Linked DNA regions of Homo sapiens. The protein of the gene in region 1 purifies or fractionates together with the protein of each later gene. This does not show direct contact. Each region holds a gene or a part of one and is shown in the gene's direction. Other genes may lie near its edges.

The links.
Region 2: the proteins of PTGES2 (region 1) and ABCF2 purify together in Homo sapiens (affinity purification with mass spectrometry; 2 studies listed by BioGRID). This does not show direct contact.

What each region holds. Positions count from the first base shown.
Region 1 is NC_000009.12:128,120,193-128,124,729, reverse strand, and holds the end of PTGES2 (prostaglandin E synthase 2), read left to right. Parts: intron 1-179; coding exon 180-238; intron 239-878; coding exon 879-1,028; intron 1,029-1,595; coding exon 1,596-1,796; intron 1,797-2,083; coding exon of another isoform or gene 2,084-2,129; exon of another isoform or gene 2,130-2,244; intron 2,245-2,250; coding exon 2,251-2,368; intron 2,369-3,456; coding exon 3,457-3,585; 3' UTR 3,586-4,037; downstream 4,038-4,537. UniProt on the Homo sapiens protein: Isomerase that catalyzes the conversion of PGH2 into the more stable prostaglandin E2 (PGE2) (in vitro). The biological function and the GSH-dependent property of PTGES2 is still under debate.
Region 2 is NC_000007.14:151,224,108-151,232,058, reverse strand, and holds the start of ABCF2 (ATP-binding cassette sub-family F member 2), read left to right. Parts: upstream 1-4,853; 5' UTR 4,854-4,896; intron 4,897-5,558; 5' UTR 5,559-5,600; coding exon 5,601-5,754; intron 5,755-7,070; coding exon 7,071-7,283; intron 7,284-7,944; coding exon 7,945-7,951. Other genes in the region: ABCF2-H2BK1 (ABCF2-H2B protein), read left to right, coding at 5,601-5,754, 7,071-7,283, 7,945-7,951.

The sequences.
Region 1 (4,537 bases):
CATTGGCCACAACCACGTCTCCCTACTTAGGATGGGTGCCCTGAGGGCAGGGCGGGGAGGACTCCGGGCATGTCCCCAGGAATGGATAAACAATGCCCAGAGTGTCTTGTTAAAGAGCCCCTGGTGACTCCCAGCGGCTGGGTTGCAACCTCTGATTAAACCACCCTTTTCTCTTCCAGCAACAACTAAATGACTCCTCTGTCATCATCAGCGCCCTCAAGACCTACCTGGTGTCGGGGTAAGGAGCCCCTCGGAGACCAGGTGGCCATTGCTTTTGGTGGCTTCCTCCAGGGAGGCCTCCCCTGAGTTCCCTCCTGGGAGCACGTGGAGCTGCTGCTTAGATTTCCAGAGTACAGAGTGGCTCGCACCTGTAATCCCAGCACTTTGGGAGGCCGAGGCAGGCAGATCACCTGAGGTCAGGAGTTCCAGACCAGCCTGGCCAACATGGCGAAGCTCCATCTCTACTAAAAATACAAAAATTAGCCAGGCATAGTGGCGAGTGCCTGTAGTCCCAGCTACTCAGGAGGCTGAGGCAGGAGAATCGCTTGAACCCGGGAGGCAGAGGGTTGCGGTGAGCCAAGATCGTGCCACTGCACTCCAGCCTGGGTGACAGAGCGAGACTCCGTCTCAAAAAAAAAAAAAAATGATTTTCCAGAGTAGCCCGTGGCCGTCCTCCTCCAAGCCCCCTACTTTGTCCTCCCCACACCTCCCTCTCTTGGGGAGGTAGCCCTGGCATCTACTCCAAATCCCTCTTACTGCAAGAGTCCGGAGAGCCTTTGTTGGTCCTGGCTCCACTCTGAGGCTGGGGCAGCGGGGTTGGTCGGCCACAGGGGACGGAGGGGGAAGGAGTTGGGGTGATATTGTGGCTCTCTCCGAAGGCAGCCCCTGGAAGAGATCATCACCTACTACCCAGCCATGAAGGCTGTGAACGAGCAGGGCAAGGAGGTGACCGAGTTCGGCAATAAGTACTGGCTCATGCTCAACGAGAAGGAGGCCCAGCAAGTGTATGGTGGGAAGGAGGCCAGGACGTGAGTGGGGCTGGGGCTGGCGGGGGAAGGTGGTGACCGCAGGGGTCTTCTGTAGAGTAGGACCAAGCTGAGCAAGATGGCGTGAGCAGGGAGCAGCATGGGAGACCAGCGGGGCTGGGGCCGGGCCATGCCGGATTTCAGTAGAGACCTTCCTGCAGCCGGGCGTGGTGGCTCACTCCTGTAATCCCAGCCTGTTGGGAGGCCGAGGCAGGCAGATCACCTGAGGTCAGGAGTTCAAGACCAGCCTGGCCAACATGGCAAAACCCCATCTCTATAAAAATGCAAAAATTAGCTAGGTGTGGAGGCACACACCTATAATCCCAGCTACTAAGGAGGCTGAAGCAGGAGAATCGCTTGAACCCAGGAGGCGGAGGATGCAGTGAGCTGAGATGGTGCCATTGCACTCCAGCCTGGGTGACAGAGCGAGACTTTGTCTCAAAAAAAAAAAAAAGACCTTCCTGCTCAGGCTTCAGCTTCCCGCCCGTGCAGTGGGTATGTTCTAGAGAATGCAGCCTGCTCCCAACACAGCCCGGGTCCTGGCTTAGGAAGTCCCTCCCGTGCCCGCAGGGAGGAGATGAAGTGGCGGCAGTGGGCGGACGACTGGCTGGTGCACCTGATCTCCCCCAATGTGTACCGCACGCCCACCGAGGCTCTGGCGTCCTTTGACTACATTGTCCGCGAGGGCAAGTTCGGAGCCGTGGAGGGTGCCGTGGCCAAGTACATGGGTGCAGCGGCCATGTACCTCATCAGCAAGCGACTCAAGAGCAGGCAAGTGTGTGTGCACATCCGGGGCCTGCTGTCCCCGAGCCTCCGGTGCCACGAGCAGTGGTGATCCCATCACACCCCTCAGGAGACCAGCGGGAGGCCGAGGCCTAGGGCAGGTGGGAAACGCATTATGGATTATGGGTCCCTTGGCCAAGATGGGACTTGGACCCAGAGCTCCTGCTCACCTCCCCTGGGGACAGCAGGGCTGGCCTTGAAGCCGGAAGCCTGGGCCCTGACTGGCGCCTCCTCTGTGGCTTTCTCCCTGGCCTGGTCTCTTGCCTTTACCACAGCCTCCCCGTCTGGGACGGATGCTCCCTGAGGCGTCTGCAGATGTGATGCTCTCACCTGGGGTGCCGTCCTGGCTTCCACACCTCCCCCCTCTCCCCAGAGGAGACCCTCTTCCCTGCTGGGCTGGGAGTGGGGGCTCCCCTGAGGGGCTTTTCCCTTCCCCGCCCAGGCACCGCCTCCAGGACAACGTGCGCGAGGACCTCTATGAGGCTGCTGACAAGTGGGTGGCTGCTGTGGGCAAGGACCGGCCCTTCATGGGGGGCCAGAAGCCGAATCTCGCTGATTTGGTGAGTGTGGTGGTGGCAGGTGGTGCCTGGACCGAGGGTTCTGTCCTCAGAGTGGGGGAGGTTTGCAAGGGAAAGCCTGGACGGTGCTTGCATCTTGCCAGAGGAACCTGCCTCTCTCTGCCATCACGGACAGAAACTCGCCTCGAAGTGGCTCCAGGAGAGAAACAGATGACCAGGAACCGCCTTGGTTCACATAACTGACAAGTTCAGGGAACGGGTTGGCTTCGGGCCCTGCTGGATCCAGAGGCCCGGGTGGTGTTACCAGAGCCCAAGCTCTACCTGTCGCCATCAACACTGCCCTCCCTGGAGTTGGCTTCAGCCTCAGGCGGGCTGGGTCCGGTGCTCCAGGCTTCTCCCAGAAAACCCCTGGGAGGGCGTCTCACTGGCCTGGCTTCACTGCCCTTTTTCCTTTTGTTTTTTTTTGTTGTTGTTGTTTTTGTTTTTTTTTTGAGACCAAGTCTCACGCTGTCACCCAGGCGGGAGTGCAGCGGTGCAGTCTTGGCTCGCTGCAACCTCCGCCTCCCAGGTTCAAGCAATTCTTCTGCCTCAGCCTCCTGAGTAGCTGGGATTACAGGCCTGTGCCACCATGCCCGGCTAATTTTTGAATTTTTAGTAGAGACAGAGTTTCAGTATGTTGGTCAGGCTGGTCTCGAACTCCTGACCGCAGGTGATCCATCCACTTTGGCCTCCCAAAGTGCTGGGACTACAGGCGTGAGCCAGCGTGCCTGGCCCACTGCTCATTTTTAAAACTGTCCTGCCCCTGGGTGACCTGGGTCTTGAAACTGGGTGGTGGGGTCTCTTCTCCCCCATCTCAGGACCTGAGATGAGGGGAGGGCATTTATCCCAAGGAAACTTGCTGGGGGGCAGGGTCTGTGGCCCAGAAAAGGGGGTACAGATGTGAAGCAGGCGAGACCTGCAGCCACCCCACATGCTTTGTTCAAACCCTCACCTGTGCTGTTGGCCCTTGAGTGGGTCACGAGCTCCAAGGGGGGAGGGGACGGGACCTGGCCACACAGCTGGCAGGGAACGAAGGAGGTCTGGATGCCTGTCAAACCAGCTATGGTGACACGTTTCTGTTCGTGCCCCAGGCGGTGTATGGCGTGCTGCGTGTGATGGAGGGGCTGGATGCGTTCGATGACCTGATGCAGCACACGCACATCCAGCCCTGGTACCTGCGGGTGGAGAGGGCCATCACCGAGGCCTCCCCAGCGCACTGAATGTCCCCGCGCAGAGCAGAGGGAAGGCAGCGGAAGACGCCAGCTGCCAGGGCCTGGGGCCACTGGGCCAGCGCCTGGCGATACTGGTTGGGGGCAGGATCATTCTGCCCCTTGTCCACGCACCCCCACCAGCCCTCTCGCTTCTAACACAGGGCACCTGCTGGGGCTCAGGGATGTTAGGGACGAGTTCCAGCCCTGCCACTGCCCTGGGGCGACCCCTCCCTGTCCCTGCCTCCCTGCTCTGCCGCCCCTCTTCCTGGACCCTCAGTGGCTGTCCCATGGCTACATCCTGTGGGTGGGGGCCCTCGACAGGACAGCAGGACGGTTTGTTTTCAGTGGAATCCCATCCCTGGGTTCCCCTGGTTCCCACTCTTCCCAAGCCTCCCGGGACTGGGACATGTTTGCAATAAAGGAAAGGTTTGTGGCGCCTGTCATGGCAGGCATCTCATGGAGCTCCGTGTGGCTGAGTGCTGCGTGGGGCTGGCGGTCAAGGGAGGCATCAGGCTTGGGCTGTGCCAGCCCTTGTGGTAACTAACCGCTGGCCTGGGGCTTCCCAGGTGTCAGGCACGGTACGGCTCCGCAGGCTTTGTGTGGCATCGTCCCCAGGATACCACTCAGGGCACACAGCTGGGCCGTGGAGCCCAGCAGCCAGAGTGCAGGTCGGGGCACCCTACCCACGGTGGGGCTCTGCAGTGGGGTCACTCATCAAGCCTCAGTTTCTTCGTCTGTCCCCGCCTTGTGGGAGAGTTCAGTGATAGGAGCAGGTGCAGTGCACAGAGCCGGGTCACCTGGTCCAGGGCACCAGGCTATTCAGACCCCTGCTCTACAGACAGAACCAAGCCCTCTCAGGTGGCGGCCCCGGGCTTCAGCTCCAGGCTGGGCCAGGCTTTATGGGAGAAGAGGCTCTGCCTTCCAGGGTGAGTGTGGGTTGTGGGTGGGACCCCCTTTCCTG
Region 2 (7,951 bases), on another chromosome or scaffold:
TGGTCCCTGCTCTCAGGGAACTGAAAGTTGAGGGAGACAGGTAATAAACACGCTTGACATAGCAAGAATAAAACAGGTAGAAATCCCAGTCTGATAAGTACCATTGCAGAAAAGCACAGAGTCCTGTGGAAAAACTAAACAAAGTATTAAATTAGACTGGGAATTTGGCAATGCTGAGATCCAAAGGTTCAGGAAAAGTTATCCAGACATGAAGTGGACAGTTTTCCAGGCAAAGAAAAGAGCACCAGAATGTCCTGAGAGAGGAAAGAGATTGGCTTGGAGAAGAACTGGGAAGGCCCAGGGCATCTTTGAGCCTGGTGAGGGGAGAACAGCCCAAGGTAAGGCTGGGGAACAGGGAACAGGTAAAGCATTCAGACCACCACAGTGGTTCCCCAACCAGAATGGCACCCTCCCTAAGGAGCAATTTGGAAATGTTCGGGGCAATTTTGTTGTCAAATGATTGGGGGAGAGGAGCCAAGGAGGCTCCATGTCTTGCACATTGCAAGATGGTATCACACAAGAAAACTGTCCTGATCCCACACAGCTTTCACATGTCCTACTGAATATTCATATAGGTTAAAAAAAAACTGGTTATAATCATCTGATGTGCCTGTGTCTTATATACAAAAAACAAAGTAATCTTGTAGGGGTGTAAAATGTGCTGAATTTTTAAGGAATGTAACCACCATGTTAACAGAAGGAAGATTATACTTTGTTGTGTTCAGGAATTTATTAGGAATTACTCACCATTTTGGAGAACTGGGTCACTGATAGCAGTGTTATTCATAGCGTTCAGTCTGCATTTGTACTGTCACATTCAAGGTGCTCCTATGCATAACTACTAGCATCTGACTAATTATGCTTTCTAGCATACTGAAAAGTATTATCTTATTATAAAGGATTTCCTTTTATTCTTTCTGCTTTGGTTCAGACACTATAATTTTTTTTGAAATTATGTATGTAGTTAGGCTATACTATCTATAAACTTCATTTCACAATAGTAAATGGGGAGTTATAAAAATGTTATTAAAATGGAACATTGGGGCTGGTAAAGTTAAGAACCACTCAAGAATATCTTGTATGTATATCTTATAGATACCATTCTAGGAGTATATAAGATAGAACTCACTGATATTGCCTACCAGCACCTGTTATCCCTGTTTTAGTCTCATCCTTAGACTGCAACTGAATCTGTTCTCATCAGCTGGCACATGATAGGTTGTAAATGACTTGTTGGAAGAGACTGGGAAACAGCAGATACACTTAGCTCAAGGTCAGAAGATTTCTAGACCAGCGCTGTCCAGTAGAAATCTAGTGCAAGCCACAAATGTGAGCCATATATGTTGTTTAAAATTTTTTAGTAACCACATTTTTTAGAGTTAAAAAAGGTAAAATTAATTTTAATATTTTATTGTATTATTAGATATATCCCAATCATTTCAACATGGAGTCAATATGAAAAATTATTGATGAGATACTTTACATTCTTTTTTTATATGGAATATTTGAAGTCTGATGTGTATTTTACACTTAACAGCAAATCTCAATTCAGACTAGCCACATTTCAAGTGCTCCATAGCCACATATGGCCGGAGGCTACCATACTGAACACTGCAGGTCCAGATCCTTTTCAGTTACTAAGTTCCTAGGTAATTCTCCAAGAGACATTTCCTTCCTTGGGTCTCCGTTTCTTCATAATTTAAACAGAGTCTAAGCCAAATATTCTTGTTTCCAGCACTGACCTTCTGTGATTTTTTTCAAATTTAGCCAGTCCCTTTCTCCTCTCTCTTTACTCACCTCCTTTTCTCCCCCATTTTCCCATTTCTCTTTCCCTGTTTCTTCTCCCCTCATCCCGAGTTCTTTTCTCTGGCTAAACCCAGGGCAGGGTGGGCAGGGGGAGGGATGGTGGCTCACACCTGTAATACCAGGATTTCAGAAGGTCGAGGCAGGAGGATCTCTTGAGCCCAGGAGTTTGAGACCAGCCTGGGCAACATAAGAAGACACCATCTCTATGTAAAATTTAAAAACTGTAGCCAGGTGCAGTGGCTCATGCCTGGAATTGTAATCCCAGCACTTTGGGAAGCCAAAGTGGGCAGATCGTTTGAACCCAGGAGTTCCAGACCAGCCTGGGCAACATGGCAAAACCTCATCTCTGAAAAAAAAAAACAAAAATTAGCCAGGCATGGTGGTGCTTGCCTGTAGTCCCAGCTACTTGGGAGGCCAACGTGGGAGGATCGCTTGAGCCCAGGAGGTCGAGGTTGCAGTGAGCCATGATCGTGCCACTGAACTCCAGCCTAGGCAACAGAGCTGCCCAGAGCTGCTTGTCACCGTAGTTTCCTGATCTGCAAAATGGTAATAATCCTCACCTCGGAGTTTGTTGGGGGTGGGGAGTTTAATGTGATGGCATAAATGAAAAAGCATAATAAATATTGTTATCTGTAACCACACATTTTTAAACGAGGCTGGGAAAGGAGAAGCATATTTCTCCCAGGAGGCACAGGCGCTTGAATCTGTTTCTTTGTTGTGTTTTGTTTTTTGAGACAGGGTCTTGCTCTGTTGCCCAGGTAGGAGCGCAGTGGTACGATCTCAGCTTGCTGCAGCCTTGACCTTCTGGGTAACTGGGACCGCAGCGATGCGCTACCACGCCCGGCTAATTTTTGTATTTTTTTTAATAGAGATAGGACTTCGCCATGTTGCCAAGGCTGGTCTTGAACTCCTGAGCTCAAAAGATCCACCTGCCTCCACCTCCCAAAGTGCTGGGAATACAGTCATGAGCCACCACACTCAGCCAAATGAGTGCTTTTTATGTGATCCACAATCATAAATAACTTTTTTTTTTTTTTGAGATGGAGTCTCGCTCTGTTGCCCAGGCTGGAGTGCAGTGGCGTGATCTCGGCTCACTCCAAGTTCCACTTCCCAGGTTCACGACATTCTCCTGCCTCAGCCTCCCGAGTAGCTGGGACTACAGGTGCCCGCCACCATGCCTGGCTAATTTTTTGTATTTTTAGTAGAGACGGGGTTTTACCGTGTTAGCCAGGATGGTCTCGATCTCCTGACCTCGTGATCCGCTGGCCTCGGCCTCCCAAAGTGCTGGGATTACAGGCGTGAGCCACCGTGCCCGGCCCATAAATAACTCTTTTGCTTCATACAGAAGGGTTTTACAGTCATTTAACTGTATTCTTTTTGTAACTATATTCCCATTTTACAGAGGAGAACATGTACTTTGCCCAAGGCCACACAATGAAGCATAGAACTGGGGTTATGCTCTTAATTATGCTATGCCAAGTGAGGTCTCCACCTAGGTACCCCAGCAACACACGAAAGTCACTTCGTTTAGGGCACTTAATTTCATGGTGTCAAGGTCTGTTTTTTTTGTTTTTTGTTTTTTTAGAGACAGGGTCTAGTTTTGTCACCCAGTCTGGAGTGCAGTGGTTTGATTATAGCTCACTGCAGCCTTGAACTCCTGGGCTGAAATGATCCTCCCACTACGGCCTTCCAAAGTGCTTGGATTACAGGTGTGAGCCACCACACCCGGCTTGTTTACTTTTCACATGTTCCTTCTTTATTATGAGCTCCCTGAGGTCAGGGAGTGACTTTGCACCATTGCAACTCCAGCACATATATCTGAGCCTGACAGATAGTAGGCACTTCGTTGGTGGAGGATATTCTAGGAAAATGTATGTTCAAAGGCATGCAGGTGTAAAATAGCACGCTTAATCTCCGAACTATTTAAGTAGGTAAGTTCTACTGAAGTATGAGTTTGAGAAGAAAAACTAATTCTCATTGTTTGAGTCACGGACTGTGGGCGAAAAGGTGCCACATTTGGAGAATATGCTCAAAGGGAGCAATAGCTTCCTTTGCTGCCCCAAACGTCACTGATGGTGAGGCTTCTGCTGCACAGGAGCCTGGAGAAGTAACAAAGATCACAAAGGGCCTGCCTTGTACTTGAGGCTAAACATTTGGAGTTTACAATGTAGGTAATGTGAAGTCCTTGAGAGATTGTATTTATTTTTAAACCATCCAGCCCAAAATGTCATGTGAGAGATTTTAAACAGTGAGACTCAAAGGGAAAGTAACGGGCCCGGTAGCATGGCTAACTAATAATAAAACAAATCTCAGCCAAGGGGCCTTTTTATCTCGGGGCCCTTTCCACCAAACTTGCATGGCTTCAGTGGAAACCTAACAATGCGGCAGCGGGGAGGCTAAGCGGCCGAGGTTCCAAAACAACGTCTGGCACCTTCTAAAAGTTTAACAATGAACCAGCCTCTAAAATTAAGGTTTAATGAAACCAAGGCGCTTTCTTTCGTGAAGGAATTCCGTTGGCAACATCTTTGCAGCGATGCCCCGCTTTCTGGAACCCCTCCCTGCCCAGCGCCCCCTTCATTTTAGTCCTCCCCTCACGCTCCCACCTCTCCTCTCCCATTGTTTCGATCTACTCCCGCTGAGGCAAGCTGGGAAGTGTAGTTGCACGCCCTGCTGCCTGAGTCGGTTAGGTAGCTCTAAAAACTCGTAACTCCACAACAGCTCAATGGATTTTCGAGAGGTGGGGTAAAGCCTGAAGGCTCAGCCGGTTTATCCAACGAGCAATCTGGGATTTGCAGTTTCCAGCGCCCGAAGTGCGCCCGCTAGCAGAGAGCTCTTGGACTCTAATCCCGCCCCCTCCCCGAGCCTCGCGCATCCTGATGGCGTCACGCGGCCCCGCGAGGTCTGTGGGATACATAGTAGTCCTCAAGGCGGGTCTCACTCTTGGCCGCTGCAACTTGAGGACTACACTTCCAAGGAGGCAGCGCGGCGCGCCGAGAACCACCCGAGGCCGTGATTGGCTGGTGAGCCGGCCGCACGCGGAGGATCCTAAGGAGCAGCTCTGTTGCGACATAGGCCGAGCAGCGAGGCCCAGTGAGTTAGGGGAAGGGGAGCTGTAGGGAGAGGGTCCCCGCCGGTGAGGGGGAAAGAGAATTAGAAGAGGAAGCAGGGACGGGGTTTGGATGGAGGGCTCTGCGAGGGGGAAGATAGGGCTAAGGGAGAGAAGCTGACGGGCGGGGTGGGGGAGGACCCGGGGGTGACGAGCGTGGAGACTCGGAGGGGACTCACGCGGGCGAGGACGAGTGCGTCCCGGCAAGAGGCTGGGCTCGACGGCCGGGTGATGTGGAGAGGGACGATCGAGAAGAGGCCCGAGACGGACGGGAGGAGGAAGCCCGGAAAGTGAGGCGGCTAGCTGAGTGCGGAGCGCCAAGTTGTAGGGAAACCGGAGACGGAGACCTCCGCTGAGGGGCAGAACCTGGTCCCCAGCCGGAGGCCCTGAAAGAAGGAGCGTTTCCAAAGTGAGGCAGTCCGTGGGGGACTGGTGCCTGTGGGAAGAGATGTTAAGATTAGAAGAGCCGCTGAGAATCGGCATTGGTTTGGGATACCCTGACCAAGTTGGAACAGACGAGGCGGGGGCAGGCCAGGGCATCAGAGGCTTGATGTTGATACGAAGATTCCTGAGAGGGATGGAGCAGGGCCCAGGCATTCTTACTAGTAAGTTTAGGGTTTGGGGGTATCTGTTTGCCTTCCTTCAGGCTCCCTGAAACAACAGTAACCTACCCCTGTGGGTCATCATCATGCCCTCCGACCTGGCCAAGAAGAAGGCAGCCAAAAAGAAGGAGGCTGCCAAAGCTCGACAGCGGCCCAGAAAAGGACATGAAGAAAATGGAGATGTTGTCACAGAACCACAGGTGGCAGAGAAGAATGAGGCCAATGGCAGAGAGACCACAGGTGAATTGAGGGAGGGGTGAGTTGGGGATGGTTGCTAAGACTTAATGCATGCCCCAGCCAGAGTTGGAATCTTGATGCTGGGGGTAGTGGAGAATGTATCTGGTGTCATGCAACTTTTCATGATGAATCAAATCAGTAGAGTTGGAATTCGTGCCACCCTGTCATTGCGCAAGGAAGCCGAAGACGAGGTTCTCACATACTCAGTGGCAAGCGGATGTGAGAGTTGCTGAGCTGCCTTGCTGCTCTATTAGATTGTGAGGAGGGGATCAGTTCCCTGCCCCTTTCTCAGTTTCCATTTCTATGCATGGTGACCAATGTGCCAGGTTCTTTGCTACATTATACAATAAGCTTGTCCTCTCACTGGTGTAGTGGCTCTACCTACAAGAGAGTAACTTATGAGTTGATTTATGGGGTTTTTCCTGGGAGAGAGCTCCCTTTCTGTTATTTATATTTTGGGAAATATTTATTATTTCTCAAGTGCTAGACATGGTGCTATACACTGAGGCACTACCGTCTTCCCTCCAAAAACTTACCGTCTAGACTGGGAAACATGGCCATATGCGGTAAAGACTATTCCAGGCCCTTGGCAGTCCAATCCCAGCCCTCTTCCCTGCCCCCTGAAAACTCCCTAAACAGCCTTCTGCTCCATCCAGACTATTTATTATCTCTTGGATAGTCACCACATCTCTGTCCTTTCACACACTGAATTATAATACCATCATGTTTTTGCTAGCTACATTTGACATTTCTGTCAAGGCCCAGCTCAAGATAATGAAGCGTCTCTCAGTCAAACCTGACCACAGTATTTCCATTCTCTATACCCTTTTGCTGTCTTTTAGTGTTACTTACCTTTTTATGTTGTATCTCCTGTTTCTTTGTCTAAATTGTTTCATCTTTGAGTGCAAGGACCCTGTCTTGGGTTTTTTTTATGACTTGCTTCTCAGGTAGACACTAAGTAAATGTTTGAAGAGGAAAGGAGAATTAGTCTGCAAGTTGTAACAGATAGGCGTTCAGAAAAGGGGGACTTAGAAAGCAATTAGAAAGAGCAATAAAGTCAGGCTGTGGGGAAGTTTTATTCCTGGCCACAGTAGTGGAGGACAGAAGTTAAGAGTGATGGGAGTAAGTAAACAGATATGGGAGGACAAAACAAAGGAAAGCAGGGTGTCGGGGCAGCTCTGTGTCATTGTGCACTCTGTAAAGTTTGGGAAACATCTGAGTGCTCAGCAGGATTGGAGCCTGGTCCTTCAGGACGTTGACCTTTGTGGAGAGCCGAGTCTGTCTCACGCCATCTTCCCAAACTGCTTTTCTATCCGCAGAAGTAGATTTGCTGACCAAGGAGCTAGAGGACTTTGAGATGAAGAAAGCTGCTGCTCGAGCTGTCACTGGCGTCCTGGCCTCTCACCCCAACAGTACTGATGTTCACATCATCAACCTCTCACTTACCTTTCATGGTCAAGAGCTGCTCAGTGACACCAAACTGGAATTAAACTCAGGCCGTCGTTATGGCCTCATTGGTTTAAATGGAATTGGTGAGGCCTTGGAAGGGGAGGTGGGAGGTATCTCTCCTTAGCTCATCTGTCACTCACAAGCATTTATTTAGCATCAACTGTGTTCAGAGCAAAGCATTTAGAATAGGGATGGGAGACCAGATTATGTCCAGGGGAAAGGAACTAGCAACGCAGAGCAGTATGTGTTATGTACAGGTTGAGTATCCCTTATCTGAAATGCTTGGAACCAGAAGTGTTTCGGATCTTGGAATATTTGCATTATACTTACCGGCTGAGCATCCCTAATCCAAAAACCTGAAATTCTCCAGTGAGCATTTCCTTTAAGCATCATGTGAGCACTTAAAAGGTTTTGGATTTTGGAGCATTTTGGATTTTCAGATTAGGGTGCGTCCACCCTGTACCACATGATTAGTTACAGCAGGTGCTGGAGAAGTTGGTCAGGGGCGTGTGAAGCTGTGGTAAGTGAAAAAAGCTTCAGATAAGGGGTGGGGCAAGAATTGGAGGAAAGTTAGAAAGGAATCCCAAGAATGGGGGCTGGCAAGATTTGAACGAATGAAGGGAAGAAAGGTCCTCAAAAAAAAAAAAATGGATGAGGTCCCAGTTTGACTGGGGTGGAAGAACTAGTGGTGAAGAGGGATAGGGGAGTTCACTGTACCAAGCGTCTGCTGCTCTCCCCTCTCAGGAAAGTC